4 separate regions of the Homo sapiens genome follow, and regions 2, 3 and 4 are each reported to be linked to region 1. Evidence: microRNA targets listed by miRTarBase, many of them from high-throughput screens and not tested one by one. Region 1 holds a microRNA gene; each other region holds the end of a gene's coding sequence.

What was found. Region 1 holds the annotated microRNA hsa-miR-6881-3p (AUCCUCUUUCGUCCUUCCCACU, at 1,965-1,986, opposite strand). A microRNA usually pairs through its seed, bases 2 to 8, with sites in the 3' UTR of a target mRNA and lowers its output. Matches are read on the target gene's strand: a 7mer-m8 pairs with bases 2 to 8, a 7mer-A1 pairs with bases 2 to 7 and ends in A, and an 8mer does both.
Region 2: the mRNA of SDHAF2 is a reported target of hsa-miR-6881-3p. The part of its 3' UTR that is shown has no 7-base or 8-base seed match.
Region 3: miRTarBase lists SEC14L6 as a target of hsa-miR-6881-3p. Seed matches in the 3' UTR shown: 7mer-m8 at 4,920-4,926 and 7mer-m8 at 4,891-4,897.
Region 4: miRTarBase lists TP53INP2 as a target of hsa-miR-6881-3p. Seed matches in the 3' UTR shown: 7mer-m8 at 2,059-2,065 and 7mer-A1 at 3,161-3,167.

The regions. Positions count from the first base shown.
Region 1 is chr15:74,409,397-74,416,512 of GRCh38, forward strand. MIR6881 (microRNA 6881) reads right to left here and starts at 2,036; the gene lies at 1,961-2,036. SEMA7A (semaphorin 7A (JohnMiltonHagen blood group)) reads right to left here. Exons shown (of 14, transcript NM_003612.5): 8 at 6,405-6,589; 9 at 5,442-5,550; 10 at 5,151-5,349; 11 at 2,489-2,616; 12 at 2,160-2,314; 13 at 1,899-1,960; 14 at 1-1,589. The coding sequence ends at 1,228. RefSeq lists enhancers at 1-344, 1-247, 2,253-2,753, 2,754-3,254.
Region 2 is chr11:61,445,516-61,452,631 of GRCh38, reverse strand. SDHAF2 (succinate dehydrogenase complex assembly factor 2) reads right to left here. Exons shown (of 4, transcript NM_017841.4): 4 at 5,899-6,691. The coding sequence ends at 6,561. Among named protein-coding and RNA genes, the nearest start is that of SDHAF2, 19 kb to the right of the region's middle. RefSeq lists an enhancer at 5,543-6,290.
Region 3 is chr22:30,519,362-30,526,477 of GRCh38, forward strand. SEC14L6 (SEC14 like lipid binding 6) reads right to left here. Exons shown (of 12, transcript NM_001193336.4): 9 at 6,465-6,571; 10 at 6,250-6,389; 11 at 5,989-6,158; 12 at 3,438-5,748. The coding sequence ends at 5,636. Among named protein-coding and RNA genes, the nearest start is that of SEC14L4, 17 kb to the left of the region's middle.
Region 4 is chr20:34,708,892-34,716,007 of GRCh38, forward strand. It overlaps TP53INP2 (tumor protein p53 inducible nuclear protein 2), which reads left to right. Exons shown (of 5, transcript NM_021202.3): 4 at 345-633; 5 at 1,167-4,545. The coding sequence ends at 1,416. NCOA6 (nuclear receptor coactivator 6) reads right to left here. Exons shown (of 15, transcript NM_014071.5): 15 at 5,883-6,474. The coding sequence ends at 6,431. Among named protein-coding and RNA genes, the nearest start is that of TP53INP2, 8.1 kb to the left of the region's middle. RefSeq lists silencers at 28-587, 628-887, 1,138-1,307.

The DNA of each region.
Region 1 (7,116 bases):
GGCCAGACACAGCCGGAGAAGGGCCCAGCTCCCCCCTGAAATGGATGGACAGGGCTGGGGGCAGGGCCGCCTGCCTGGAGAGCTCGGCCCAGGCCATCCCCACCGGAATTTTCACAGTTTAGCCTAAGTTATAACATGTCCTGAGCGAAGGTGGGAGGCTAGGAGCATGGAAGCACAGCCCCTGGGGAAGGGGGCTGAGAGGAAGGGAGGAGGCCCCCCGCCCCCCAACCCTCAACGCCAAGGGCAGAGTCCTGGAACCTCCCCCTGAGGACCCGGCTCGTCCTTCCAAATGAACACGGTGAAACTAGGGCTCAGTTTTCTCCTTCATTCTCCCGTTTCCCTCACCCCACCCCCTCCCATAACCACCCCCAACACTAGGGGCTCCAACAACGTCCCCCTCAGACCGGGCTCCCAGGGCAGAGCCAGCTCATGCCACTCTCCAAGAACCCATGCCCGTCTCCAGACTCTTATCTCATCCCCGGGAGCCTCAGACTGGGATCACCCCCGCTCCCCAACCCATCCCTTCCCAGCCCCTCCCTTTCCCACCCACCCCCCCGCATGTAGTTTTGGTATTTTCATACAGATGCAGTCGGAAGTAGCTATACATGAAATAAGCCTAACATAAAAATAGAGCTTTTTCCGTCCTTCCGTCCGGAAAGCAAACATCCTTCAATAAACATGCAAGGCGGCTGTCCTGTGGGACCCAGGACCAGAGAGGGAGCTGCAGAGGACAGGGCTGGACAGAGGGTAGCCCTGGGTCTTCAGGAACACCAGCCACCCAGCCATGAGAGAGGGAGGGGAAGGAGGCAATGTGGGTACCAAGAGTCCAGAAGGACTCAGGCCTCAGCCCCAGGGTCGAGATGGAGTCCCAGCTCTCCTATCCAAACCCACTCCCCGACCCATGGGCTCTTGGGCTGGGAGCATCGCTGCATTTAGTCAAGTTTGAGGAGTCTGAAAAATATTTTCCAGAAGATAAAGTCTTGGGTCATCGATGCCCCAGCTTCACAGTCGGTGCCCTCATTCTCAGCCCCTCACCATCCGTGCGCCACCTGGGGCCCAGCAGCCGCCTGCGGCTGGACGTCTCCAGGCCTGGCATCCTCCACTGGGTTATTCTGTCCCCTGGAAGAAGTGGCAGGCAAGGAGCTCCCGGGCCAGCCGGCTCTGAGTGTGAGACGTTCTAGTGCCCTGGGCTGCAGAAGCCTGAGGCATGCCCAGCCTCGGGAGGCCCTAGTGGACCAGCAAGCCAAGAGTGAGTGTGGGCAGCACCCCCAGCCAGAGGGAGGCGGCCAGGGCACAGGCATGACCCAGCAGGTGCTCGGCCATGATGCCGTCCTCGGGCAGCAGCTGCCAGTGCTGAGCCTCGCGGAAGTAGGAGCCCTCCTGGGCCTCGCAGAAGTAGTGGCCGTACTGCTGCGCCGTGAGGTTCTCGATGAACAGGATGCAGTTGGGGCTCTGGTGACCAGGTTCGCAGCTCTGCTCCACGTTCTCCTTGTGGCGCCATGAGTAGGTGGCGTGGCGGGATTCCATGGGGCAGCTCAGGTAGTAGCGAGAGTTTGGGGCCAGGGAAACCTTCTGCAGTGGGGCCTTGTCTGGGGAGGCAGTGGGGAAGCAGCCGTGAGGAGGGACAAAGAGCTCCCAGGGGAGGATGTGTCCTCCCCACGGACTGGGATCCCAGGACAAGGCTTCTGAATGAACGTGGGGAACCCAGCCCTCAGCGTCCTCCTTTTTTCTCCCGTCTCGCTCATCCCACCAAGAGGGCTCCCTCTGCAGGACTGTATCCTGCCCCATGTACCTGGGGCCCACAGGACAAGGCCATGTCTCCCTCAGACCAGGACAATCAGGGCAGGGCAGTACCCCACTCATTGGGCCACAGCCGCCAGCAGGGCCAGATCAGGTACCTGGTTTGGGGTTGGGACACTCCTTGTGTGGCTCGGCTGGATTAATGGATTGCAGCACTGACCTGGAGTGGGAAGGACGAAAGAGGATCAGCAGATACAAGGCTGCAGACCTGACCCTCCTATCCTTACCCCAGTGCAGTTCCAGCAGAGAGGAGGGTCCCACAAGAAAGGCCCAGTACCGCCACCTCCTCCAGCCCGACAACACCTCCCCCTCTCCCATGCCCACCTTCTCCCAGGGACGAGGGATCCCGGCCAACGTACCGTTCGGAGCTGTAGATGGAGATGCAGCGGCCTTGGTCCCAGCCGCAGTAGGGGTCTCGGGACATGAGGCAACCGTGGCAGCCCCCGCCATAGACCTCACACAGGTCCAGGGGCACCTGGCTCACCTCCCACTGGGAGCTCACATACAGCTTCCTCTGGAAGGACAGCAGGATTGGGTCAGGCCCGGGCCCCACCCCACACTCAGTCCTAAATGTCCAGGCCCTAAGGCCTAGAAGCTCTTAAAAGAACACACAAATCACATGCAAAGGAGCCCTGTCCTCAGCTGCAGTCACTGCATAGCCCATGGGACGCAGTGGGGGAAGGCTCACCCGCTCAGCATCCAGCGACATGGTCTGGATGGCAGCCGCGCGGCGGAAGGGCTGGATCTCCATGATGTTGAAGGCGAAGCTGTGCTCCTGCTCCCCCGGTTCCACCACCTTGTGGATAGTGCCCCTGTCTGTGTATGGTGGACAGAGGGTCAGTGGGCGGGAGTCCCACTGAGGGGCCAGGCAGCTTTCCTCTAGGCCGGGGAGGGGTGGGAAGTCACAACTCAGGCAAGGGTCACAGGACTGGTGTGGGCAGGGCGAGGAGAGCGTGACTGGGGAAGAATGTGGGAGCCTAAGGGCAGCCTGGAACCTTCCAAGGCTGATCCAGAGAGGCCATCCCAGGAGGCCCAGGGGTCCCTGGATACGGCCTCCAACATTCCCAAGGCTGCACGGGAAGAACAGAAGCAGGAGCCCCACACCAGCAAGGTCAGTGCGGCTGCTGTCCATGCATCACCTCGTTTAACCCTCCACAGCCCTGCGAGGTGGCTGTCATCTTCCCCACTCCACAGATAAGGAAATCAGGCTCAGAAAGGCTAAGCCACTTGCTCAAGGTCACACAGCTGGTGAGCAGCAGAGACCGAGTTGGAACCCAAATCTGTCAGAGCCCAACCACTCAGCTGCTTCTACAACTCCCCTGCCTCCTGGACTCTTAGGGAATATATTTACTTTAAATACATTTTTTTTTTATTTTGGAGTAATTTTAGATTCCCAGAAAAGTTGCAAAGATAGTACAGAGAGCTCCAATCTACCCTTCTCCAGTTCCCCCTAATGTTACCATCTTACATAACCACGGTATATTTGTCACAACTAGGCAACTGACATTGGTGCATTACTATTAACAAAACTACAGACTTTATTTGGATTTCACTAGTTTTTCCACAAATGTCCTTCTTCTGTTCTAGGATCCAATTCAGGACTCCACGTTGCATTTGATCTTAGGGGATATCTTAATTTTATAAAATCTTAGATCTAAAAAGGATCTTGGATTCTAAATCAAGAGTTCCCAAGGTCTTATAACCGAGCTGCCTGCCTCCTAGACCAATGCTCTCTCCGTTCACAATTAGGGACCAATGGGCACCCTGACCCCTGGTCCTCCCAATCCTACCTCACCTGCTCTCCCAGTTTCTAGAATAGCCTACCTCCCTCTCTCCCTCCCTCCCAATTTCCCAGGGCATCACCTGCCCCAAAAAAGCAGTCAGATGATTGCCTGCCTAGGATGTTTCCTCTACACATCCGTGATCCTCATCTGTGGACTCTGAGATGTGGCCAGATGCTCCTTGGGCCTGATAAGGCCCCACCCCAGCCACTGCCTTCACAGACATACTGCCCTATACCTCCTTCCAAACCAGCCCCAGTAACAGCATACCCTTGGCAAAATTCTCAGGAAAAGAGCCAATACTTCTCCCAGTTGTGAGAGCCTCCCATTCTCTGCAGAGGACTTAGAAAGCTCTATTTTTCAGTCTAGCCCAAATACGAATGATGCAGGCTCCAAAATGGTGCCTCCTCCACTGCCCTTAGAACGAAGACACCTTCTCTAATCACTCAAGTGTGCTCACCTCCCAAGTCTGCAGGAAGGGAATCCATGGCCCAAGTCCAGCCTTCCTTGTCCTAGCTCCTGCTCCCAGTTCCGCACTGTGTGACCTCTCCTCTTCTGCTCCCCAGTGCCCTGCCATCCCTGGCTGACCACAACAGCTGTGCCAGCCACTACTGGAGCCAAGCAAGGATGGGGGCCCAAGGGTGTAGCCGGGATGAATAGGGAGTAAAGAGGCAGGGAATCAGGACCCAGGCCCTGCCCTGTGGGAAATTCCTCTCCCCAAGGCTTCCAGGAGCCAAACAATGGTGCTGGGGTTCCAGTTTCCTACAAGGTCACCAAAGCCGAGACAGTTCCAAGGTGAAGCAGCAACAGGAGATCACATGGGGAATGTGAACAACTGAGGTTGGGCGCCTGGGCCTGAATTGAATGGCCCCAGGGGTGCTAGAGGCCCTTTCCAGTCTCAAGGAAGGCAGCTGGCATGGGAAGCTGCGACAAACCCAACTCAGGACTGGCTCCTCCGTGTCCTGTGGCTTTCCAGAAAGCAGGAGCATCTCCCACGGCATTCCACCCAGCTTCCCCCAGCAGGGCCTACTCCAGGGAAGAAGAGAAGCTGCCCCTGTCCTCTGTGAGATGGCAAAGGTTCTGCCCCCTGGAACTCCTTCCTCATACCTAATTTGTGCCCCATCAACTCCTCAAATGTTTCCTCTCACCTGCACAATCCCAAAGACAGGCGCAGGGCCTGACTCCCTCATTCTGCCTGGCAGAGGCCAGTATCCCTGTGGTTCAGGCCCCTCCTCCTCATTTGCCACGTCTCTTCCTACCATCTTCTTCCCTGAGTCAGACATCTGGACCAAAGGTGCACCTGGCTTTGCTCAGACTCTCCAGATTTCCGCCTCCAAATCCCAGTGCTTGCTTTTCTCCCATCCCCCTTTCCCTCTTGCCCCTACCTCCTCCAGGAAGCTCTCCCTGCCTGACTCTTCCACACCCACACACATTAACCCCTGACAACTCCAGTCACTCAATTATTCCTTCCACATGTAAAGATCCAACCAGATGTTAACTACATTATTCCTTACACCTTTCATGCCCGTTTTTACAAAGCAAACTGAGGGTCCCGGGGTAGCCTCTCACCTGTAGTTAGGTAAAGCACATGAAAGGTCTCCCCGTGGCTGGCTTGCATGCGGTGGACGGCCACTTTCTGGTAGTGGTATTTAGAGTGGAACAATGGCGTCTTCAGAGGCCCCATGGGCTCCACCCTCTGCGCCACCTCTGGGTGACGGTCAGCCACCTGGAAGGTCTCTGTGGGTATCGGCTGCTGGTCTGGGAGGCACTGGGCAAGGAGAGCAGGCCCAGGTCAGTGGGGTGGTGGGAGGTGAGGCAGAAGGAGGGCTGGGCCTGGGCCACGGCTGGTGTCACGCTCACCTTGCCAGGCCGCGGGTTGGGAAGGCTTGAGTGGTAGCCCTTGAGTGAGGAGGTACGGAAGACCTTGTCAATGTCACCGAGGGAATACACACAGACGGCTGAGTAGTTCCTGCAGTGACATGGAGACCAGCTCAATGGGGGGCCCAGAACCCACCCATCCACCTCCACTCACCCAGGCCAGCCTTGTGCCTGGCACTGAGTTGCCAACCACCACTGAAAATGGGGAGGGATGGAGAGGAGGAAGGAGAGGAGTTCAGCCTAATTTCTTTGTGCTGCAATTTAAAACCACAAACTTGTATCCTGTTACAGAATCACTGAGTCTAGAGGCCATCTGCTCTACCCAACCCCAAGGCAGGAGGAACCCCATCATAGGCTGAGCAGTTCTCTAGCCCTCCCTGGGCACAGGCTGTGGGGTGCTGATGCCCCAGGAGGCCAGACCCCCAACCCCTTCCCAGCCTGGGGGACCCCACTCACCCAGGAGCCACAGAGCAGGGTCTTGGCTTCCTCCACTCTATCCCTAACTCTCCCCACACACACCCAACACTTCCGCCTGCCGTGTGTTCAATCAATGAGAGTGATTAAGAAGTGTGAATTATCGGGCTCAGGCAGTGCCTGAGCAGGTGTAATAGCACCCAGCTCCCCGAGAGATGCTTCAGCAGCTTCCTCCTGGGCCCAGTGTCCACTCTCGGCACAAGCAGGTGGTGGGACACACAGGCACAAGTGCAGTCATGAGTGTGCATATAGGGCATGCACACACACCCATGAGTGCAGACTCACTCACACAACAGTACATACATCGCACTGGCTGTCCCCCCACCCCACACCCAGCAACAGCCCAGCCTCTTGAGCCTGCAGCCCCTGCTCCTGCCACACCAGGGAGGCCCTCAGCAGGGCCCAAGGCCTCCTGTCCCTACTGGACACTGAACCAATGCCAGCCCCGGCCCCAGGACAAGGGCCACTCACCAGGGGTTGGAGAAAACACCATAGACCCTGGTGTCCCTCCACTGGCCGCTGGGGTCAGGGAGCAGGAAGACGTCTTGCAGCCTGTTGAAGTTCTTGTTGGTGGCAGCATCACTGCATACCAGCATGGCTTTCAGAAAAGTGTTCCACTTGGAGACTGACAGTGAACTTTCCCCACCCTGGTCCCCCTGGAAGGGTAGAGGGGAGAAGAGGCCCCTCAGCACCTGCCCGGGCTTCCCCACACACCCCAGGAAACCACTGCCAGCAATATCAACACCTGGGCCCAGAGGAGGAAGGCAGGCTGTGAGGGGCCAGGACCTGCCGGGGGTGCCCCAGGACTCAGGGCAGGTCTCCAGATGAGACTCCAGCAAGCAGGCCTGGCTGATCCAGAGCCCAGGGCCAGCAGTGCCCAGGGTCAGGGCAGGTGAGAGTGCCAGGTCCCCACAGAGCAGACGGACTCAGACACACATTTACTGACTCACACACCCACACACGTGGCACAGCACATTCACACAGGCAAAACACACACACACACACACACACACCCCATCATACACACGCTCACACGCCATCATACGTGCACAGGAGCTCAGCCACCTTTACCCACACACAGACACATGATGCTCCATGCACACACAGCTGCTCCCACAGTCCCTGACACAGACCCACTCATACATCCACACAACTTCTACATGCACACGGACACACAGAACTC
Region 2 (7,116 bases), not on the chromosome of region 1:
AGACAGACCTGGCTCAGTGGCTCATGCCTGTAATCCCAGTGCTTTGGGAGGCTGAGGTGAGAGGATCGCTTGAAGCCAGGAGTTCCAGACCAGTCTGGGCAACACAGCAAGACCCTGTCTCTACAAAACTTTTTTTTTTTTTTTTGAGACGGAGTCTCTCGCCCAGGCTGGAGTGCAATGGTATGATCTCGGCTCACTACAACCCCCGCCTCCCGGGTTCAAGGGATTCTCCTGCCTCAGCCTCCTGAGTAGCTGGGATTACAGGCACGTGCCACCACGCCCGGCTAATTTTTTGTATCTTTAGTAAAGACGGGGGTTTCACCATGTTGTCCAGGCTGGTTCGAACTACTGACCTCTTGATCTGCCCACCCCGGCCTCCCAAAGTGCTGGGATTACAGGCGTGAGCCACTGCACCTGGCCCAAAATAAACTTTTTTTAAAAAATTAGCTGGGTGTGGTGGCATGCGCCTGTAGTCCCAGCTTCTCAGGAGGCTGAGACAGGAGAATGCCTCGAGCCCAAGAGTCAATCACACCACTGCACCCCAGCCTGGGTGGCAGAGTGAGACCCTGTCTCTATAAAAAGGAAATCTACCAGACAATCGTAACTGATTGCTGAGGGTGAATTCAGAACAAAAGAAGTTATTTCTATATTAAAAGTAGGTGTCTCAGAGCTCAGTGGCCTGGTGTCCTCATCCCTGCTGTGAGGATAGACCTGGCATACAAGGCTAGATGTCCTGCTGCCTGCTCTCACAGGGTCAGTGCCTGAGGCCCATAGACAGATCCTTTCGTGCCTTCCATTCACTTATCCCTTCTTCAGAGGACCTCTGCGGCACGAGCTCCATCTCATTGATCTCCGCGTCTTCTGTGTCTGGCACTGGGTGTAGCACATTGTGCTATGCTAGTGCAGACAACTTCTGCTTGGCAATCAATGAAATAAAGCACCAAGAACAGTGAGCTCCTCAAGGACAGACAAGATGCATTCTTCTCTATCCCCAGCATTTAGTGAAGACCATGACAGTGTTTTTCCAATTAGCTTTCTCTTTTTTTTTTTTTTTTGAGACGCAGTTTCACTCGTTGCCCAGGCTGGAGTGCAATGGCGCGATCTCGGCTCACTGCAACCTCCACCTCTCGGGTTCTAGTGCTTCTCCTGCCTCAGCCTCCTTAGTAGCTGGGATTACAGGCACGTGCCACCACACCCGGCTAATTTTTTTTGTATTTTTAGTAGAGACGGGGTTTCACCATGTTGGCCAGGCTGATCTTGAACGCCTGACCTCAGATGATCCACTCACCTTGGACTCCCAAAGTGCTGGGATTACAGGCATGGGCCACTGCACCCGGTCTCCAGTTAGATTTCTAGGCATCACTTCTCCTATTTGGACCAAGACAACTACCTGTTTCTGCTTCTGCTGCAAACAGTATCTAATACACCATCTATGAAAACCTTCTCACTTCTGCATGACTCCGCTGAGATGGGAGCCCAGAGAAACAGGTGAGTGAGGGTCCTGCTCACAGAGGGCCTGGCCTCAGAGCCTTGGGCCTTAGGAGGAACCAGCACTAGTTTGTCAGCAAAGGCACTGGAGCCAGTGGGTGCGATAGAGGTTGTGCAACTCATCTTGGGACCCTGGAATGAGTTCTATGTGGGCTTCCTAACAGGCACATCCAACTCTCAGAGGCAGCCTCCCACTTGGATACAAAGGACAGCCAGTGATGGGACGGCCCAGAAAGCATAAGAGCTCATCTCTGCTGCTCAGGGTAAGGAGAAAACGCTTGAAGCTGGGTAGAACTTGAGCCCTTCCCTCTGGCTCCCCTCCAAATCCACAGGAAGTCTCTGAACTCCAAGCTCTCACCTGGAGAGCTAGGCTGCACATGTCCTCCTTGGAAGGCTCAGATGGTTAAGTCTAGAGCTGCTGAGGCTGTGACATATGAGTCATGGTCCCCAGGTCCTATAGGGAACCAAGAGAGGGTGGCCCAATCTGTGCAAAGTTGTCCACACCAGCAGTCTGCCATGGACCAAGACAAGATTCAGGATGAGAGGTCGTTAGAAGAGAGATGATGATGCTTTTCATGTTTTGAGGCAGGGTAGCACATGGTACCTAAGTGCAAGGGCCCTGGGGCCCACTGCCTGGCTTCAAACCCTAGCCCAACCGCTTCCTATCTGTGACTTTGAGCTAGCAACTTTATCTCACCGAGCCTCACTTTCCTCATCTCTAAGACGGGAATAATCATTGCACCTATCTCACGGTATTGTGGGATGAAATGACGTAAAGCACTCAGCAGCACTGGGTACACAACAAGCCGAACTATTAGATGTTACTACCAAGTATTACTGAGGGTACAGGGGCTGTACTAAGCTCTCCAGGGGCAGGACTTTATTCAGTCCTTATACCCACACTGTGAGGTCGGGTTCCTTTTCTTTCCTTTCCACAGATGAGAAACAGAAGCTTGGAGAGGTTAAATAATGTGTTTCAGGTCACCCAGCTAATCAATGGGAGCTCCAGGATTCTAGGTTAGGCCTGATTCCTAAACAGCTCCCCTTAACTACTCTGTTCTATTTCCCCTAAACACGTGTTCCAGGGCATCACCAGAGGAGAATATTTTATTAAATATTAGCCAAATCACCTGAATCCACTGAGAAACAGAATGTACATCTTAACGTTCTCACTTGCTGAAAGTTCCATGCTGTGATGTGTTGTTACAGAAAATGATATATCCACCCTCCCCCACTTTTTTCCTTTTATACTCTAATCTCATGACAGATTATACAATCCCCTTCTTAAAGAAACATTCTCCTTTTTGAAAGGAATATTTGGCACTTTGGGAGGCTGAGGCAGGCGGATCACATGAGGCCTGTAGTTCGAGACCAGTCTGTCCAACATGGTGAAACTCCGTCTCTACTAAAAACACAAAAATTGGCCAGGCATGGTAGCGTGCACCTGTAATCCCAGCTACTAGGGTGGCTGAGGCATGGAATCGCTTGAACCCAGGCAGAGCTTGCAGTGAGGGGAGATCCTGCCACTGCACTCCAGCCTGGGTGACAGTGAGACCCTGTCTCAAAAAAAAAAAAAAAAAAAGGAGTATCTGGGGTCTGAGATCCGGGATCCAACAAAAGGCTTTTAACTCTTCTTTTGCAGCTATAGGTGATGATAAATCTACCCATCTCCTTTAAAGACTGATGTTGTCCTGGATAGCTTAAACTTTCTACCACCCCTCTAACAAACTGCTAACAACACTTGTTTCTTAAGCCACAAAAAGTACTGCTGGCCTGAAGCCACCTATCCCACCAATGCCATCTTCCCTGACAGGAAAATTCGAACACCACTCCTCATTCCCAGAGGGTTCACTGGGAAACTGAGGTGTCAGGAGTTAGTTTCACTGGGTACTGATCAGTGTCATCAACTTGATAGCTGCGGGATGGTGAGTCCACTGTCCTCAGATACTACAGAACATACTATTAAGTGGGGCTGTCAGCTCAAAAATCTCACAGACCTGCTTGCCATCTACAGCTGTTTAGCTTATCATTAAACCTTCCTCTCTTTGTCTAGCCACAAATAGCTGCAGATGGACTGAAGGATAAATGAGAGACCCCAACTATCCCATCGGAATCTTTTCCCAGTGATGTTTAAAAATATGAACCAGGTCTGTATTGGTGCCACCCTGGCTGGAGCAGAAGACATACCAGATGACCTCCAGATAACACTCAAAGCCAGTAAGAGTGCTTCTACAATGACCCCCAAAAGACACACTCTGTCTAAGGCACAGAAAGCTCCAGCACAAGGTGTTTGGCTTATGGATTTTTAAGACTTAGGATGATTAAAAGGAAACGATGGAAAGAGAACAGCCTTTCCTGACCCAATTTAAGGTGTCACGTGGAGAGCCTGTGCAGGACTCACAAGACCACTTGAGTCGGTCAGGACAGGGCCAGACGCTCATATGCCCCACACAGGCTCTGAATGAGGTCAGTAAGCAGGGATGTGTCAAAGTAAAAGGAATGAGTCTAGCTTCTGTGCATTAGCGATCCTTCGGGGGCTGCTGGCCCTTGCTATATGTTTATTAATTCCTAAAAAAATGCACTGTGGCCGGCCTAGTTTTACTTAATGCCTAATAAAGGGAAAAACTGTTTACATAGCATCCCTGGGCCTGACAACTGAGCAGGTGAACTTAGCAAGATCCTTCACTTTCAAAGATGACACAATCCAGCAGCCTGGGAGGAAAACAATTCCTCTAGAAGCATGCCATTCCCAGGTGAAAGCGGCAGCAATTGAACATTGTGTTAAATAAGACAAAATCAGGATAAGAAGGGATCAAACCCGAGGGGGAGAAAAGTTCCAACTACATCCTTGGCTACTGGGGTTTGTTGCATAACGTGCAAAGGATAAATGGGTAAGTCACCGCCCAATTCATGTGCACTTCGTACAGTCCAGATCTATGTCTATATATAAACTCCCGGCCTGCTTAACATTCTCCCCAGGGTACATAAATGCAGCCCGAGAGAATAGCCAGAGTCTTCAGCAAGCTCCCAGGGAGACGTCTCCTTCCTCGCCTGCCCTGCTTCTGCGAGTCTCACTTCCATTCCTTGCTTAGGGGAGAGTGCTAGATTTTTCCATCAAAGGTCTTGTCACCAGGGTCTGTTTTCTCTCTCGTCTTCACTGGGAGGTAAGACATTCTGTGGTTCTATTAATAGGCTCAGCTTTCTGACCTGCAGATGAGAAACCCTGGATGTAGCTATGGTGACCTCATTGATATGCCAGGCAATTTGTGTTAGGGACAGGTTTTAAGTCTCAGACTGAGGCTATGACTAAATGCTGACATTCATATCTAGAGTACATACTGTGCAAGTTACCATGTAAGAGCTTTGTGTGTTTCATCTCATCAACTAGCTGAGACAGGAAGCATTGTCATCCCCATTTTATAGATGAGGCAACTGAGGCTCAGGTCAATTCATGTATCCAGCAGGTAAGCAGCAGAGCCAGGATTTAAATGTGTAACCAGTGCACTGCGCTGCTTCCTCACAGAAGCTTCACTGGGTGATCAAGTTCAGATCTACTCACTTGGCGAAGCACCTGGCAGATTCCTACCCACCATGTAACACAGAGGTCATGTCTCAGAACTGTCACATCTATTTGCCACAGCTTTCCCAAACAGAGACTTCTATTAAATTTCCAGCAGTAAGGCAGTGTGTTCTAGTAGAAAGTTCAAGAGCTTTGGAGGCAGACTGAGCTATACTAAATTCTGCTTTTTCGACTCAATAGCTACCTGACCTTGGACAAATTACTTCCTCTCTCTGAGCCCACTTTCTTATGTATAAAATACAGGTAACACCACTAGTCTAGAGTGCTGTGAGGCTTAACTGTGATTACGTAAAGGCTAGATCTCTTCCCTTCCCTCCTGAGCCACCAGGGATACTGAAGAGCAGGCAGGAACCATGAGGTGGCTCTGTAGGAACCCTGGAGCTCAACAATGCTGGAAACATGTGCGTGTGTAGTCCCTGTGTGCGGCTCCTATAATCACCAACCACCTGCTCATCAAATCTGGCCGACCTTCTTCTAGTCAACACCTTTAGATGCACCTGGTCCAGTCTGGGTGACTGATTCTACTGCCTAGATTACAGCTCTGAGGGCAAAACCCCTCCAGGGAGGGCACCACTAGCAACACAGAAGTCACACAGCCCTAGAGCTTTTAAAAACACTTCTAACTAATTCATTCTAATATATTATTTCTTATGTATTATTATTTAGTCAACTAATTGTGAAGACTGTAGGAATGAGGGGGAAAGTTTTCTATAGTGCTACATGAAAATAAAACCTGTAATTGTGAACTTGTAAAACTCTATAAACATGACTATGGGTTATATGAAAATAGACAAAATTAAAATTAATTGTGAGGGCTGGGAAATTGTAAATTTCCTTTTTTCAGTATGCTTTAATAATTCTCTTTCAAATTACAAAGTGCACGTTTTAAAGAAAGCCCAATGATGAAGATGTTGACTCCTAAGCAGTGTGCCCACACCACTCCTGCCTGTGGCCCTCATTCTGCCTGCTGTGCCTTTGAAGGATTCAGCTCAGGAGGCTGGGATCAGCTTCCCTTCGCAGAAGGAGCCATACCAGGTTGGAAGTGGGGAGTTCCACTTCAACAAAGCCCTGGGCCACTGAGGGCGGGGAGCTGCAGGGAGGGCGGGAGGCTTTCCATACAGCACGCACAGCTGGCTGCCTCTTTTCTTTGAGTACACTTGGGCTGAGGCAATGAGCAAGCACAACTGCTTCGCCTGCAGTGCCCTCTCGTGGCAGACTTGCCTCTAGAGATAGCAGCCAGGCAAAGCCTGCATGCCAGCGCTGCTGACAAATCACTTTTGAGGCTCAGAGCTGAACAAAAAAGTATGAGAATGAGTCACATTGTGCATTTACATGTATGTCCTAGGAGAGGGTTATGTCCATCACTTGAGGCAGGACCAGTGGTCTGGGGTAGGGCAGCTGGGCATCTAAGAAGCCGGAAGCAAGGCTAACGTCCATCATAAGTAGTTACCATCCACAGACTGAACCCCCATGCCAGGCCGTGGAGCACAGCTCAACGTGGCTTTTCAAAGAGGTACTCAAGATCTGGGGCACGCAGTCTCTGCTCTTTGTTTTTGTTTTTAGCAAAGTCTCTCAGCAGGGCCATGACTTCATTTTCAAATATTTCTGGGGCTGGTTTAGCTTCTGCAAGAGAAGAGTGGGCAGAAAAAATTATGCCATAGTCAGTCAATGCTCAGGTATGAGAATCTTAAAACTCGAAACACTGGCCAAGAACCACAGATGGATATATAGACTGTCTCCATCCTTCTTCTAAATATACACGATGTTAGCCTATACCAGGGGGTGGCAAACTGTGTGAGCCTATATTTGCAAGTCGTTTTATTGGAACAGCTGCTCCCAATGGTTTACATATTACCCATGCTCCTTTTGTGTTATGACAGCAGAATTGGGTACTTGCAACAGAGACCATATGACTACAAGTAAAATACTTACTATCTGGTCCTTTATGAACAAGTTTGCTGACCCCTGGCCCGCACAATCTTGGCTGTACTATTTTGCTTTGCATTTGGCAATTCCATTGTTCCCCAGACATTGTGTTTTCCCTTGCA
Region 3 (7,116 bases), not on the chromosome of region 1:
TGGTCACCCTGTTGGGACAATATCAGCACACAGACCCCAAGGGGCTCAGCCTGCTTCTTTTTTTTTTTTTTTTTTTTTTTTTGAGACAGAGTCTCGCTCTGCCCAGGCTGGAGTGCAGCGACGTGATCTTGGCTCACTGCAACCTCCACCTCCCACATTCAAGCAATTCTCCTGCCTCAGCCTCCCAAGTAGCTGGGATTATAGGTGCACGCCACCACACCTGGCTAATTTTTTGTATTTTTTAGTAGATAATTGGTTTCATCATGTTGGCCAGGCTGATCTCGAACTGCTGACCTCAGGTGATCCACCCGCCTCAGCCTCCCAAAGTGCTGGGATTACAGGCATAAGCCACCACACCCAGCCTGCCTGCTCCTTTTGACAGGACACACTCAGTGACAAGGTACAGAAAGACTGGAAGGAAGGGGCCCTCAGGGGGCAAGATTAATTTCAGGAGCAGGGTGGGGGGAGGCAGGATGAAGAGCTGGATGGAAAACACCTGATGAGGCAGGAGCTGCAGCGTGATCCTCCCAGCGATGGGAGAGCCACACCAGTCTCCCCCTACCCTTGGAAAGGGGACTAGGAGTTCCCTGAAGCCTGAACTGTTGGAGGCTCAGCCACAAAGTCCTGCTGTGGTGGTTAGGCTGGCCCAGGAAATTGCTGCCTGCTGAGCACCAGCCATAGGACATGAGGGTCCGGCTCCCAGTGGCTGTCCTTGGCAGCCAGCCTGAGGCCAAGGCTTAAGGGGCTGTGGGTCAGACAGGAGGCCCTGGGAGGTGTGGTACAGAAGACGAATCCCTTAGCAGAGTGTCCCGCAATTCATCAGAGCCTCATGCTCAGCTGAGCCAGAGGACTTTGACATTACTCATTCATTCATTCACTCATTCATTAAATCATTCGTTATGCAATAGCTACTCCATGCTGTGCACCAGCCCAGAGCTGGAGGTTGTTAGTGGAGAACTCTAGATGGTAAATGTCAGGAGGCCCTCTGTGAACCACCGAGGCTTCAGCTACCAAGAGGCTTTTCAGGCCAGCAGCCCACCTAGCTCCTAATCCAGGGCCCATCTGTTCTTCCAGAGCAGAGACCCAGGCCTCCCCCTCCCTTTGGTGGGGGCCACCACCAAGCTGGAGTATGCACAAGGGGCTGCCTTCCCGGCTGCTAGAGTTATCATCACCATGGCCAAGGTCGTGCCCAGCCATGGAATGTGTATACTGAGAGCTGAAGATGGTTTACCCAATGCCCAGGGCCCACATGGGCGGCTGCCATCTGTGTCACCTCTCCACAGTGCTTATTGAACTTTGATGGATACTAAACCATTGATTTAGTATTACACCAGTGATTCTCCCATGTGCACACACCATTCAAAGGGAATAGTCTGGCTGGGTGTGGACTACTTTGGGAGACTGAGGCAGGAGGATCACTTGAGGCCAGGAGTTAGAAACCAGCCTGGGCAACCGAGTGAGACCCTGTCTCTAAAAAAAATTAAAAAATTAACTGGGCATGGTGGTGTGCACCTGTAGTCCCAGCTACATGGCAGGCTGAGGTGGGAAGATCACTCGAGCCCAGGGGTTCAAGGCTGCAGTGAGCTATGATCATGCTACTAAACTCCAGCCTGGGTGACAGAACGAGGCCCTGTCTCTAAAAAATAAAAATAAAAAAAGGAAGAGTCCATGGAAAGTCATATAAGTTCACAAGCTAACAGCAGTGGAAGCCAATAGGTATGGAACCAGTGGCTACACAAAGGTCACAGAGAACAGACACATGCCCTGAATCTGGACAAGAGGTCTCTGCAGGGTGAGATGAGGAGCCAGCCTTACATGGCCTGGAAAGAGCAGGCAGGCACCCTTGGAACTATCAGGTGAATTAAGAGAAGTCCAGAAACAGGGCAGGTGGGACGGTTGAATTCTGGGGCAGGCATAAGGGAGTCTCTGAGGTCGACATGCAAGAGACCAGGGGCAGGGCTGGCCCACACTGCAGGTGGAGCTGGCAGCCAGATGGGAGGAGATGCAGGGAGGGCATTAGGCCCAGAGTGCACCTGGAGATCAGAACTGGGGGCACCTAACAGGGGCCTGTAGGGCAGCCAGGACAAGCACAGGAAGATGGGACCAAGATGCATGGAGAAAGCTTGTGGGACAGTGCAGCGTGGCTCCCTGGTGGGCTCCAACACTAGTTATCAGCTCCCAATAGCAGCTGCCTTCCCCTGGAGGCTTGCTGGTGCCTGCGGAATCTCCTTTATCCTATAGCAACCACTCTATGAGGCAGACGCTATCTCACCCATTTGCCAATGAGGAGATGGAGGCTCAGAGAGGTCTGATCACTGGCCAAAGCCAGGCAGTGAGTGCTAGAAACAGCACTTGAACTCGAGCCTGTCTCATCTCACACACCATGCCTGCCTTTTCTTTTTCTTTCTCTTTCTTTTTCTTTCTTTTCTTTCTTTCTTCCTTTCCTCCCTTCCTTCTTTCTTTCCTTCTTTCTCTTTTCTTTCCTTTTTCTTTCTTTCCTTCCTTCTTTTTCTTTTCCTTTCTTTCTCTCTTTCTTTCTCTCTCTCTCTCCCTCCCTCTCCTCCTCCTCCTTCTTTTTCTTCCTCTTCTCCTCCTCCTCCTTCTTCTTCCTTTTCTTTCCCTTCCTTCTTTCCTTTCCTTCCTTCTTCCTTTCTCCCCTTCTTCCCCTTCCCCTTTCCTTTCCTTTTTCTTTCTTTTTACAGAGACAGAGAACTCCTGGGCTCAAGTGATCCTCCCACCTCAACCTCCCAGAGAGCTGAAATTACAGGTGTGAGCCACTATGCCCAGCCGACCATGCCTTTTTCATGTTCATGAAAAGATGCTCAGCACTACTAGTCATTGAAGCAATGTAAATTAAAACCACATTGGCCGGGCATGGTGGCTCATGCCTGTAATCCCAGCACTTTGGGAGGCTGAGGTGGGTGGATCCCCTGAGGTCAGGAGTTCAAGCTCAGCCTGGCCAACATGGTGAAACCCTGTCTCTATTAAAAATACAAAAATTAGCCGGTGTGGTGGTGTGCACCTGTAATCCCAGCTACTTGGGAGGCTGAGGCAGGAGAATTGTTTGAACCCGGGAGGTGGAGGTTACAGTGAGCCAAGATCATGCCATTGCACTCTAGCCTGGGCAACAAGAGTGAAACTCCATCTCAAAAAAATAAAATAAAATAAATAAATAAATAAATAAAAACCACATTAACCACAGGCCTATTCGAATAGTTAATATCAGGATAACTAACAGCACCAGGCAAGGATGGGAAGCAACTGGGATGCTTACATGCTGCTTTTGGGAAAATGGTGCAACTTCTGTGCAAAACACGTTGTCCGTTTCCCGTGACATTAAATGTACCCTTCCCATAGGTCCCAGCAGGAATTCTCCTCCTGGGTATTGATACCCTGGAGAAGTGAAAATTTAGGATCACAAAAAACCTGTACACGAATGCTTACAACAGCTTTATTCATAATCGCCCCCAAACTGGAAGCGACTCAACCAGCCTTTAACAGGGGAAGGGATAAACACAGTGTGGTCCATCCATACAGTGGTATATTACTCAGCAACGAAAAGCAACTAAATATTAACACATGCAACAAAGTGAATGAATCTCAGAGGCATTATGCTGACTAAAGAAAGCCAGAATCAAAAGGCTAAATATTGCACGATTCCATTTATATGACACTCTGGAAAAAATCAAAAGTGTAGGGATGAAGAACAGATCAGTGGCTGTCAGGGGAGGGGCTGAGGGAGAGCAAGGGCTGCTGAATGCCCGTGTTTCCATTTTTGGACAGGATTCCTGTAAAGTAGGCAATTAGGGAAGAACTTTGGCTGTCATTTGGGGCTGCCACATTGAGAACAAGCTGGGACAACATGTGAGTGACAGGATCCTGGGCAGAATCTCAGCTGACAGCATAGCCAGACCCAAAGAGGCCTGATCGCAGGACAGCACTCTAGTAGGACTGTGGGCTGACACCGACCTAGTGTCCCACTGTGAGGCTCAGTCTGAATTTTTTTTTTTTAAGACAGGGTCTTGCTCTGTTTCCCAGGCTGGAGTGCAGTGGTGCAATCTCAACTCACTGCAACCTCCGCCTCCTGGGTTCCACAGATTCTCCCACCTCAGCCTCCCAAGTAGCTGGGACTGCAGGCACTCGCCGCCACCACACCCAACTAATTTGTGTATGTTTCGTAGAGACGGGGTTTCGCCATGTTGTCCAGGCTGGTCTCAAACTCCTGGCCTCGAGCAATCCACATGCCTCAGCCTCCCAAAGTGCTGGGATTACAGGTGTGAGCCACTGCACCTGGCCAGTTTGAAATCTTAATCAGGAGATTGGATGAAGATCCAGAGCTCAAGCAGATTCTCAGATGCTATAACAGTGGGAGGGAACGTGTATGTGGAAGACAGAATAGAGAGTTTAAAATTCTTTCTAGATGGGAAACTGTGAGGTTGGATTTCCATTCAGAGCAGCATTGCACAACTGCTTGTTAGGGAACTATTTGAACCATGTCTTTTATTTTCTGCATGCTTTAACATCTGAGGTTTTGCTAATCCTGGAGGGCCTGCCTCTCCTAGAGATACAGCAACTTGCCCACAAATGCACTTTTCGAATGCAAACCAACTGATATAAACCATATTCCAACTACCTCCTTTATCAGATTCTCACACTCCAGGCCACTATCCACCTGCTGTAATCACCCCAGGGCAAGATACCAGACAGCTAGTGACAGCCCTTATTCCACGGAGCCTGCTGAAATTATTCAAACTAGCAAATCTCAAGCCTGCTTACCCTGCCTCACCAGTTCCTTCCTGCAGAAACCATCATAAAAGTAAAGTTGCTTTGTCCAGAGTTTTTCTGTCTCATGTGCGTCATGTTCGGCCCTGATGCCTCCCTGGGGACCCCTCCTCTTCCCCCTATGGCACAGCGGCCCCTCCTCTTGGGAACTGTGAGTAATAAACTATCTTTTCAATGGTAATTATTTCCTGATCTGTCAGCTATACTATATTTCAAATTTCCTATTAATACTATTTTATTTTATTTTTTTGAGACAGAGTCTCACTCTGTCACCCAGACTGGAGTGCAGTGGCATGATTTCGGCTCACTGCAACCTCTGCCTACCAAGTTCAGGCGACTCTCCTGCCTCAGCCTCCCAAGTAGCTGGAATTACAAGCAGGCACCATCACACCTGGCTAATTTTTGTATTTTTAGTTGAGATGAGGGTTTCACCATGTTGGCCAGGCTGGTCTCGAACTCCTGACCTCAAATGATCTGCCCGCCTTGGCTTCCCAAAGTGCTGGGATTACAGGTATGAGCCACCATGCCTGGCCTAATACTATATTTTAGAAGAGTAACTTATTTCTTGGTATTGGTTGATAGAAAAAAGCCTGGGGTTTTTGCTGAGCTTGAGGTCACAGCAGGTCATAGTGGGGATGGAGTGTCTGTGTTGCTTTGCTGTGACCATCGGGCCACCACTAGGACACTGTCCCAGCCGTTCCTGAGGAGTGGGCCAGCTGTGATGCATAGGCTGTGACCTGCTGTTGTAGAATCCCTGTTCCTGAGAGGTTGAACAGGGTCTGGCCAGGGAAGGCTGTGAACTCATTGTGGATTCAGAGATCAAAGAGGAGGGTGTGGGGACCATGAGGTTCACCTAGAATTTCTCCATCTTCTCCATGAAGGTTTGGTCTGGGAGCAGTACCTCCACGGTGTAGCTGATGCGTTTAGAATGAACCAGGCTGTAGGTGTTGTAAAACCTCAGGACATCTGCAGTGAGGGACAGACATTCAGACAAGATGCCCCACCTGGGACTCTGACTTCCATGGTGGTAAATCTCTGCGTGGGTACCCAGACCAGGGAACCATTGCCACAATTGAGAGCCCAGAGCCAGCCTCACACTGTGCCCACCAGAACCAAGGGCCCTCACCTGGTAGGACCTGGATGCACATTGTAGCACCCTCCCCCTAGCCCCCAGCTCCAGGTAGAGCCATCCCTGCCAACTCTTACAGCTGCCGGCCTGGAGGCAGGTGAGAATCCCATCTTCAGGCACCATGTGGGCATTGTAGCGCTGGCTGGGCAGCACCTCTGTCATCTCCCTAGCCCTCTGCCGCTCCCCCATCTTGGTCTTCAGGAAAACCCCAAAGCCAATGTCCCCACCATCTGAAGCAAACTGCCACCTGCAGTGGATAGAGCCCCATTGGCGACCCCCTGCCTGGGCTCCAGGCCCCTCCCAGATGTGCCCAGGTGTAGAGTGGCTGCCATCCCTACCTGAGCACACAGCCCGGGAACAGGATCTCGTTCTCCACCTGCAGGGAGGAGCCGCGGCCCACGGACCTCGTGTGCTCATACTGCAGCCTCACCTGCTTGCACAGGTAGTAGCTCTTGGGCACCTCACCCCCGTAGTTGATCTGTGGGTGAAGGGGGTGTGTGGGCACTAGGTCACAGCTTCTCCCCTCCTTCCCCATCCTCTGGGCACCCTGTACCTTGGTCAGGCACTTGGGGTTGCCATCGGGGTCAGTCATGGTCCCCCCAAACTCCACGGGCAGCTGGTCGGGGCTGATGAATTTTGTCAGCTCCTGCTTCCAGTTGTCTGCATGGGAGCAAGAGAGGGACTCCAAAGGGACTCAGGAGACTCAACAGAGGGCAGAGGGGGCTGAGCCCAGGTCTGTCCTTTGGCCAGCTGCTCTCCCTCCCTGGCGCGCTTTTGCCACTCCATTGCCTAGAGCAGTCCTGTCCCAGAAGAGGGAAGCCAAGTGGCCCTAGGTCTTGTCCTGGGGCTCAGCATGTGCTGTGTTGACTAGGTCCTGTCCCAGGCCTGCCCCTCTCTTACTGCCCCTGCAGGCCCTGCCCCCACATCTGTCCAGGTATTGGCCCATTGGCCACGTTCATAGGAACTCGGACCAGCAACTCCTGGAGCCTGGGGTTGAGGTCAGGCAGGCTATGACCCGGTCTTCGCTTTCCCTTAGAGACTGAACTCAGCCTTCTGGTCAGATACTGCCCTCAGCTCCCAGGGCTCCAGCACCCTCAGAATTGCAGGGCCAAGCTCGGGTCAGTTCCCCACAAGCTGCTCTGAGATGGCCAAGGATGTTCCACAAAGGGACACGGGCATTGCAGGAACAAAGTAGACGAAAGCAG
Region 4 (7,116 bases), not on the chromosome of region 1:
GTGAAGTCATTCTAAGGGCAGATGGCCTAGCAGCGGAGGGGAAGGGCGCTGCTGGGGGACGGGGGAGTCCCCCAAGCCTACTGGAGGTGGGGTCACGGGGCCCCTTCCCATGAAAGCCGGGGCTCTCTCCTGGCGGCCCAGGAGAGGCCCGCACGTCAGGTCCCCTAGGGCAGCAGGGCGAGACGCCTGGCCCGTGGGTGCCCCGGGGCGCTGCGGACGGGCTGCGGGTCTGACTAACGATGCCCTTTCTCTCCCCGCCCCCTTGTCCGGTGTGTGTGTGTGTGTGTGTGTGTGCCTCCTCGCTGCTCCCCTCCTCTGCACGGCTCCCATCCCGCGCCCCGTAGACAGCTACGCGGCTCCACCCAGCCCCGGGGCCGCCCCTGCCCCCGCGGGCCGCCCTCCGCCCGCGCCCTCCTTGATGGACGAGAGCTGGTTTGTTACCCCTCCCGCCTGTTTTACGGCAGAGGGGCCTGGACTCGGTCCCGCCCGCCTCCAGAGCAGTCCCCTGGAGGACCTCCTCATCGAGCACCCCAGCATGTCCGTTTACGTCACCGGCAGCACCATAGTGCTAGAGCCCGGGTCCCCTTCCCCGCTCCCGGACGCGGCCCTGCCTGACGGCGACCTCAGCGAAGGGTGAGCGGGCCGGGGGCGGAGCCTGGAGGCCCAGGGAGACGGATCTTGGAGGCCAGGGTCCAGGCTAGGAGGCTGGGGTAGTGGGGCCAGGAGCCCGCCCCGCGCTCGAGGGGGTAGCGGCCTTGGGAGGGTTGCCTTTGAGACAAAGTGGGGGGCCGGTGGGCCTCCGGGCGAGGCTAGAAGCGGGCCTGAGGACGGAGGGGCGGGGCTTGAGAGGGAGGGGCGTGGCCAAGAGGCTGGGGCCGGGGTTGGAGGCTTGAGGAGCGTGGCTGGAGCGCCTAGGGAGTGGGACTTAAACAGAAAGGCAAGGGTGGAATAGGGGGTGGGGGTCCAGTCTCCCCCGAGGTCCAGTTTACCTGTTAAGGGCTAGAACCGAGGAGGCACCTCCGGGTTGGTACCCACAAGAAGGGCGTCGGGCACCCCAATCTGAACAGACACAGAACTGAGCCGAAGCAAGGGTGGGAGATGGCAGCGCCCTCTAGACCCCCCGCCCAGCTTACCCGGCTTGACCGAGCCTGGCTCTGTCCTCACAGGGAATTGACGCCCGCCCGCCGCGAGCCGCGGGCCGCGCGCCACGCCGCTCCTCTCCCAGCGCGGGCGGCGCTGCTGGAGAAGGCGGGCCAGGTGCGGCGGCTGCAGCGGGCCCGGCAGCGGGCAGAGCGCCACGCGCTGAGCGCCAAGGCGGTGCAGCGGCAGAACCGAGCCCGCGAGAGCCGTCCGCGCCGGTCCAAGAACCAGAGCAGCTTCATCTACCAGCCGTGCCAGCGCCAGTTCAACTACTGAGCGTCCACCGGCCGCGCCACGAACCCCTTGCCGATCCCGATCCCTGTCGGGCTCCTCCGACTCCTCGGGCTGGACACCGAAACCTCCCTTCTTAAAGCGTGTGAGGTTGGGTGATAGCCGTTCCTTCCCCGACACCCTCAATTTCCCCATCTCTGATCCTCTAATCTGCCTCTGAACCCATTCACCCTTCACCCTCACTCCTGGTCCCCATACCCAGCATCTAATCATCCATGCCCCCTACTCCTGGCCCCTCCATCCTTTCTTCTCTGGTCCCCATCCCTGTCTCTCCCTTTCACCCTTGCCCTCCAGTCCTCTACCTCTGGCCTGCCCCTATTTCTGAAAGCTTCTTCCAGTCCCTGATCTGGCTCATTCCCCACCTTCAACTCCCACCTTACATGTCTCACACTATCCCATGGTTGGCATTACACTCACTCCTGTTCCCTTATTCTTCATTCCCAGTAATTCCCTACCAAATGGTGGGGACCCTGAGCCCAGCTCTGACCAGGTAGAGCCTGTGCAGCCTGGGCTGCTGTCATTGCCCTCCAGTAAGGGCTCAGGGTTTTGCTTTTAGTCTCCCCTTCCTTCTGCCTTGGGGGCGGTACTCTGTGGAGCTGCTTAGGCCTGGAAAGGTACAGTATGTAGAAGAGGACTGTGAGACGTGAGTTAGAGGGAGAAGATGGAGGGAATCTAGGGAACGAGGCAGCCTATTGGAGATGCGGACAGGACAGACACGTTGAGAAGCTGCAGGGAGCAGGGCACCAAGGGAGTGTGCACTGTGCTTGCTCAGAGAGGCCAAACCCTGCTCCCAGGCTGAAGCCTGGAGTCTGCCCCCACTTCCCTTTTCTATAATCCACCCTTCTGCAGGCCCTGAAATCTGAAGGGCTTAGTTAGTACCTTGCCACTCTACCCCCAACACGTCACCCGAGTAGAAGCTGGGCAAGGCCCTACCATCCTGGCCGTCTGTTCACAAGCCCAAGGTGCTAGAACTAGCTTAGGAGACATGCAGGCCACAGGGCTTCTAGGCAGGGAAAGGGCACACACCCTAGGTCAGCGTGCAGAGCAGTGATGCTGGAGGACACACCATGGGGTGAAGCCATCCCAAGGCTGACAGCTCAGTCTTCACCTTGCCTCTGGCCTTGTATTTCACACCCTGCTCAGTATGGCTAGCCAGCAGTCCTGAGTAGGAGTCCAGGACTCCCACTGTCTCAATCTGCAAATTGTTCCTATCCAGGTTCAGGGCCTTCAGGGGGCCTCTTTTCATTTTCTCCCACAGGCCTCTCTTTCTTTCTAGGTTGCTGGGGAGAAATGGGTACCCTATGATCCCCCTCCCCTTCTCCTCCAGTAAATACCTGGAAGAGGGAACCTGAATCCCTGGGGGAGACAGAAGGGGCAGGGGCCACCAGCCTCCCCTTCTTGTGGTGAGACTGAATTTTGGGCTCAGACACCAGCAACAGCCTCTTGGGATGCCCTGAGTTGCTTCCCATTTCCTCTTTCTAGCCGTCCTTTTCTAGTGTGTGCTCACTCTTCCTAGGAACTTTTAAGACTTCTTGGTACCTATGAACATAGGTCCTCCCCTCACCCCAACTCTAGGTTTCCAGGCCTCACAGCCAAGCTGAAGCTTGGAGAAAACTCTGCATTCCCATGAGGGCAAAGGCAGCTGCCCTCCCTGACCCTATAGCCCCAGGCCTCATGGGGGGTATGTGGGGAAGGGATGGGGTATCCCCATGGATGCTGGGATGAGGACAGAGGAAGACCTGATGGGGTCTCCTATTCCAGGGAATAAGCCAAATTAACACTAAAAACGGATCAAAGCTCCCACGCCAGTCCACTAGGGCCCCAGTAGTTGACAGCCTTGCTCCTCTCCCAAGTTCTCCTTCAGAACCTAGTTGCTTTTATTCTTCCAGCTACCACTTGGGCACTTCACAGCCAGCCTAGGGTCTTCGGCACCTCCAAGAGCTGAATCTCCCTCCAACCCTTCTTGCCTACTCCTCACTGCCAGCTGGGACCTAGGCTCAGTCCTGTGTGGTGCCCATGATCCTTCTGGTGGGGGAAGAGTTTAAGTTATAGGGCATTTGGCTCAAATTTTAAAAGGCCTTTTGTTTACCTATATTTCTGGAGGCTCCTGTATTCTAGAACCCAATCTCTCACCTGCTTGGTTGCAAGGCTCATATTTTTTTGTACCTTTCCTATAGATTCTGTAGCATTTGAGTGTGGCAATATTTTAATTGTGTATAGATTTCTAAGAACCAACACTACTCAGTCTCCTGCTAGTCTGACTCCTGAAGCATCAGCCCTTGTCATACTGTATTGACTGTGTACGTGCCTTTCACCTTGAGCATGCTTCAGGATTTTTTTTTAAACCACAGAACTTGAATACATGAGGGAACCAGAGTTCAAAGTCCTATGCAACCTTAGGAGGGGGTTAGAGAGTCTGTTTTGATTGATGTTTTCTGAGGCCCTAGAGGAGTTTGTATCAATTTGTGAGTATTAATGTCAGTACTACCAGCACTTTGCCAAAACTGTCAGAGGGACCCGTTTCTAGAGTGAGTCCCAGTTACATCAAACAGTGACTTCCAGTTATTCCCCAGTAAGTCTGAGTGGTTCCTTCAAGCTGGGTGTCTTTCCAGCCTTTGCCAGTCTAGCCCCAGCAGGGCACCGTGTATGAATGCAGTTTGGTGCTGTTTTAGAGTATGCCTGCTCCCCAGCCCCCTGCCTGGAACCCTCTGAGCAACTTGCTCTGACCTATAATGTCTTAGGTGCAACACGGACCCCACCAGAGCTCTTGGATACCCCCCTAGATCCATGTGGCTTTATGTGAGGGGACTGAATGCAGACACACCATAGCCCCCTTCTACTACTTTCCCTCTCGCCCTGCCACCTAGTTCCACATGGAACCAACAAGTTGAGTGCATCCCTGTTGGGTGTTTTGTGTTGAGACTGGCTGAAATGAGGAGACTTTGACCATGTGACGTGTCAACAGACTCAAGGAGACAACCACCTCAACTGGGTCATGTGGCATGCCTGTGTATGTGTGTAACAGAATTCTGATTGTTAGACTGTAATGCTATTCCTCTATGGGAGAAAAAAATTAATATAAAGAAAAACAAATAAAAATATATTTAAAGCACATGATCCTTTCTGCCTGAGTTGAGCTTAAGTATGAGAAGCATCTTGTAATCTTAAGCACAGTAGTGGCATAGGATATTATGATAAAGCTGGCCTTGGTTCTGGTGTGTGTGTCATATGGGAGAGGAAGAGGGGAGATAAGCTTACTGGGAACAGAGCCAGACAATGGGGTCTGACTCATAAATGACTACTGTTAGAGGATCCTTACAATGCAAGACACATACATGAAGACAGCTGAAATAGAGATGAGAATAACAGCATGACAGAATGACCAAACTCATCCTTGTGGTCTCAGGCACTGGGTTAGAGCAAGGGCAAGTAGCCACTGGAGGGGAAAGGATGAAGTCTAATCCTGGGGGAGATGCAGCAGAAGGCTGAAGCCCAGGCTGAGACAAGGCCAGGGCCCCAAGCATCAGAGTCTCCTCAAGTTGCAGGTAGGGTGGGGCAGAAGCAGCTGGCTTTGGAGACTACACACATTTTGAAGAAGGACAGCCAGAGTGAAATGTAGTGGACATCTCTGAAATATACAGCACAAAATGACCCCTTTAATTTGGGAGCTGCTCTGTCTAACCACAGAACTAAAGGTGGAAACCTGACCTAAACTGGACTAGATTTTTTTTTTTTTGAGACGGAGTTTCACTCATTGCCCAGGCTGGAGTGCAATAGCGCAATCTCGGCTCACCGCAACCTCCGCCTACTGGGTTCTAGCGATTCTCCTGCCTCAGCCTCCCCAGTAGCTGGGATTACACGTGCCACCATGCCCAGCTAATTTTGTATTTTTAGTAGAGACAGGGTTTCTCCATGTTGGTCAGGCTGGTCTCGGACTCCCAACCTCAGGTGATCCACCCGCCTAGGCCCTCCAAAGTGCTGGGATTACAGGTGTAAGCCACCATGCCCGGCCCTGGACTAGATTCTTGATGCTGGCACAATCTTACAGGCCAGTTTGGGCTTACCTCCTGCAAGGAGGAGATGTCAGCACAATTGTTTTGGAGCAATCCACCATGCAAATGGAGGAGCAGATATGTGACATGGTGAAAAAGTGCCATCTCAGCTGCTGACAGCTTCCTGTCCCTAGAAAATCCTGGGTGGCCATTGATCTCTAAGTTGGTTTTGTTATTTGCATCAAAAGAAATCTGAGCAATATATATCAAAATACCTGGCACAGTGCTGAACAGGGCTAGTTTCTTCAAAGCCAAGAATGAGGTGAGGGAGCAAGTATGTACATTTTCCTCAACTTGCCAGGCGGGCATCTCAGGTTCAATGAGGACTAGATAGGAATTCCATCCACAAGGCTGTGTCTGCTTAGTTAAGGTCCAAAGAAAGAGCTGATCACCCAAAAATCCCTTACCAATAACATAACTTTATGTTCTATGACAATGACATTTATTTAACACGTTATTTCACATTGTACAAATCCTTAGATTCTCTTTATTCACTGGTCCATTTCTACAACAAATACATCCAAAACACTATATAATAAAATTATTTACAACATTTCCAAATGAGAAGATTGCTTTTGCCCCCACTACTGCTATTCACACACAGTACTTCCACGGCACAATACATCATTAGGAGATCTAAAAATGCTCACCCTGTACTCTAGGCTGCTTAGGAAATGTGAAAACTAGTAACATTTATAATGGCATTAGCTCCTTTCAATACAAGACAACATTTTAGAAACCTTGAACTTCAACTCGCAACACCAAAAGGGCTCAACAGTCCTGCTTTCCCCATTGCACTTTATGAAACAGGTTGCAGGGACTAGGAAAAGGGCCACATTATTAAAATTACTAACTGTACAGAAATTGATTTAAAAAAGTCACAGCTCAAAATTGCTCTTTGTAAAAGTCACACACATTTCCAAGTATCAAGTCGCAGTCCTGCTTGTTTACTTGGATTTTCTTCGCTTGGATTGCACCGCACTGGTTATGTCTGTGGGGGAAAGAAAGGACATGTTCAGTGGAAGTAACTCTTTACAGCAGTGCCCTTTAGACAGTCCACAACAAGCAGGGCAGACCTAAGGGGAGCCCTACTCAACTCAGAATCTGTCTAAGGGGTGCTCTGAATGGAGAGAGTCACAGGCTTTGCTTGATGACTTACGTGGGAAGAGGGTGTGGTCCTGCATTGGGCAGAATTGGAATGTGACAGAGGTGGTGGCGATGAAGCACACTGACTAGAGAAAGTGCAGGGTGGAGAGAGCCTTTGTAGCTGGGCAATTCACCCACTGTTTCCCTCACCAGTTCTCATCATAAAACGAAGTGTAATAGACAGACTGACAATGCTTTTGGTGAGAAATCAACGAGTAATGCCATAAGCAAATGAGTAAATTCTGTTAGAATGCAAAAAAAAACCTGCCTTGGGATCCCTTTTGGAGCCAAGCTATTGTTTCACAGTAAGGAACCATTTTTGTCATGCTATAGTCAAGGTCTAAACAACATGACCATGGGCCTTGGTCAGTGAGGGTCTACTATGGCCCAGCCAGTTATATCAAGATTGTGGAAGGCTGGGCGTGGTGGCTCACGCCTGTAATCCCAGCATTTTGGGAGGCCGAGGTGGGCGGATTGCCTGAGGTGA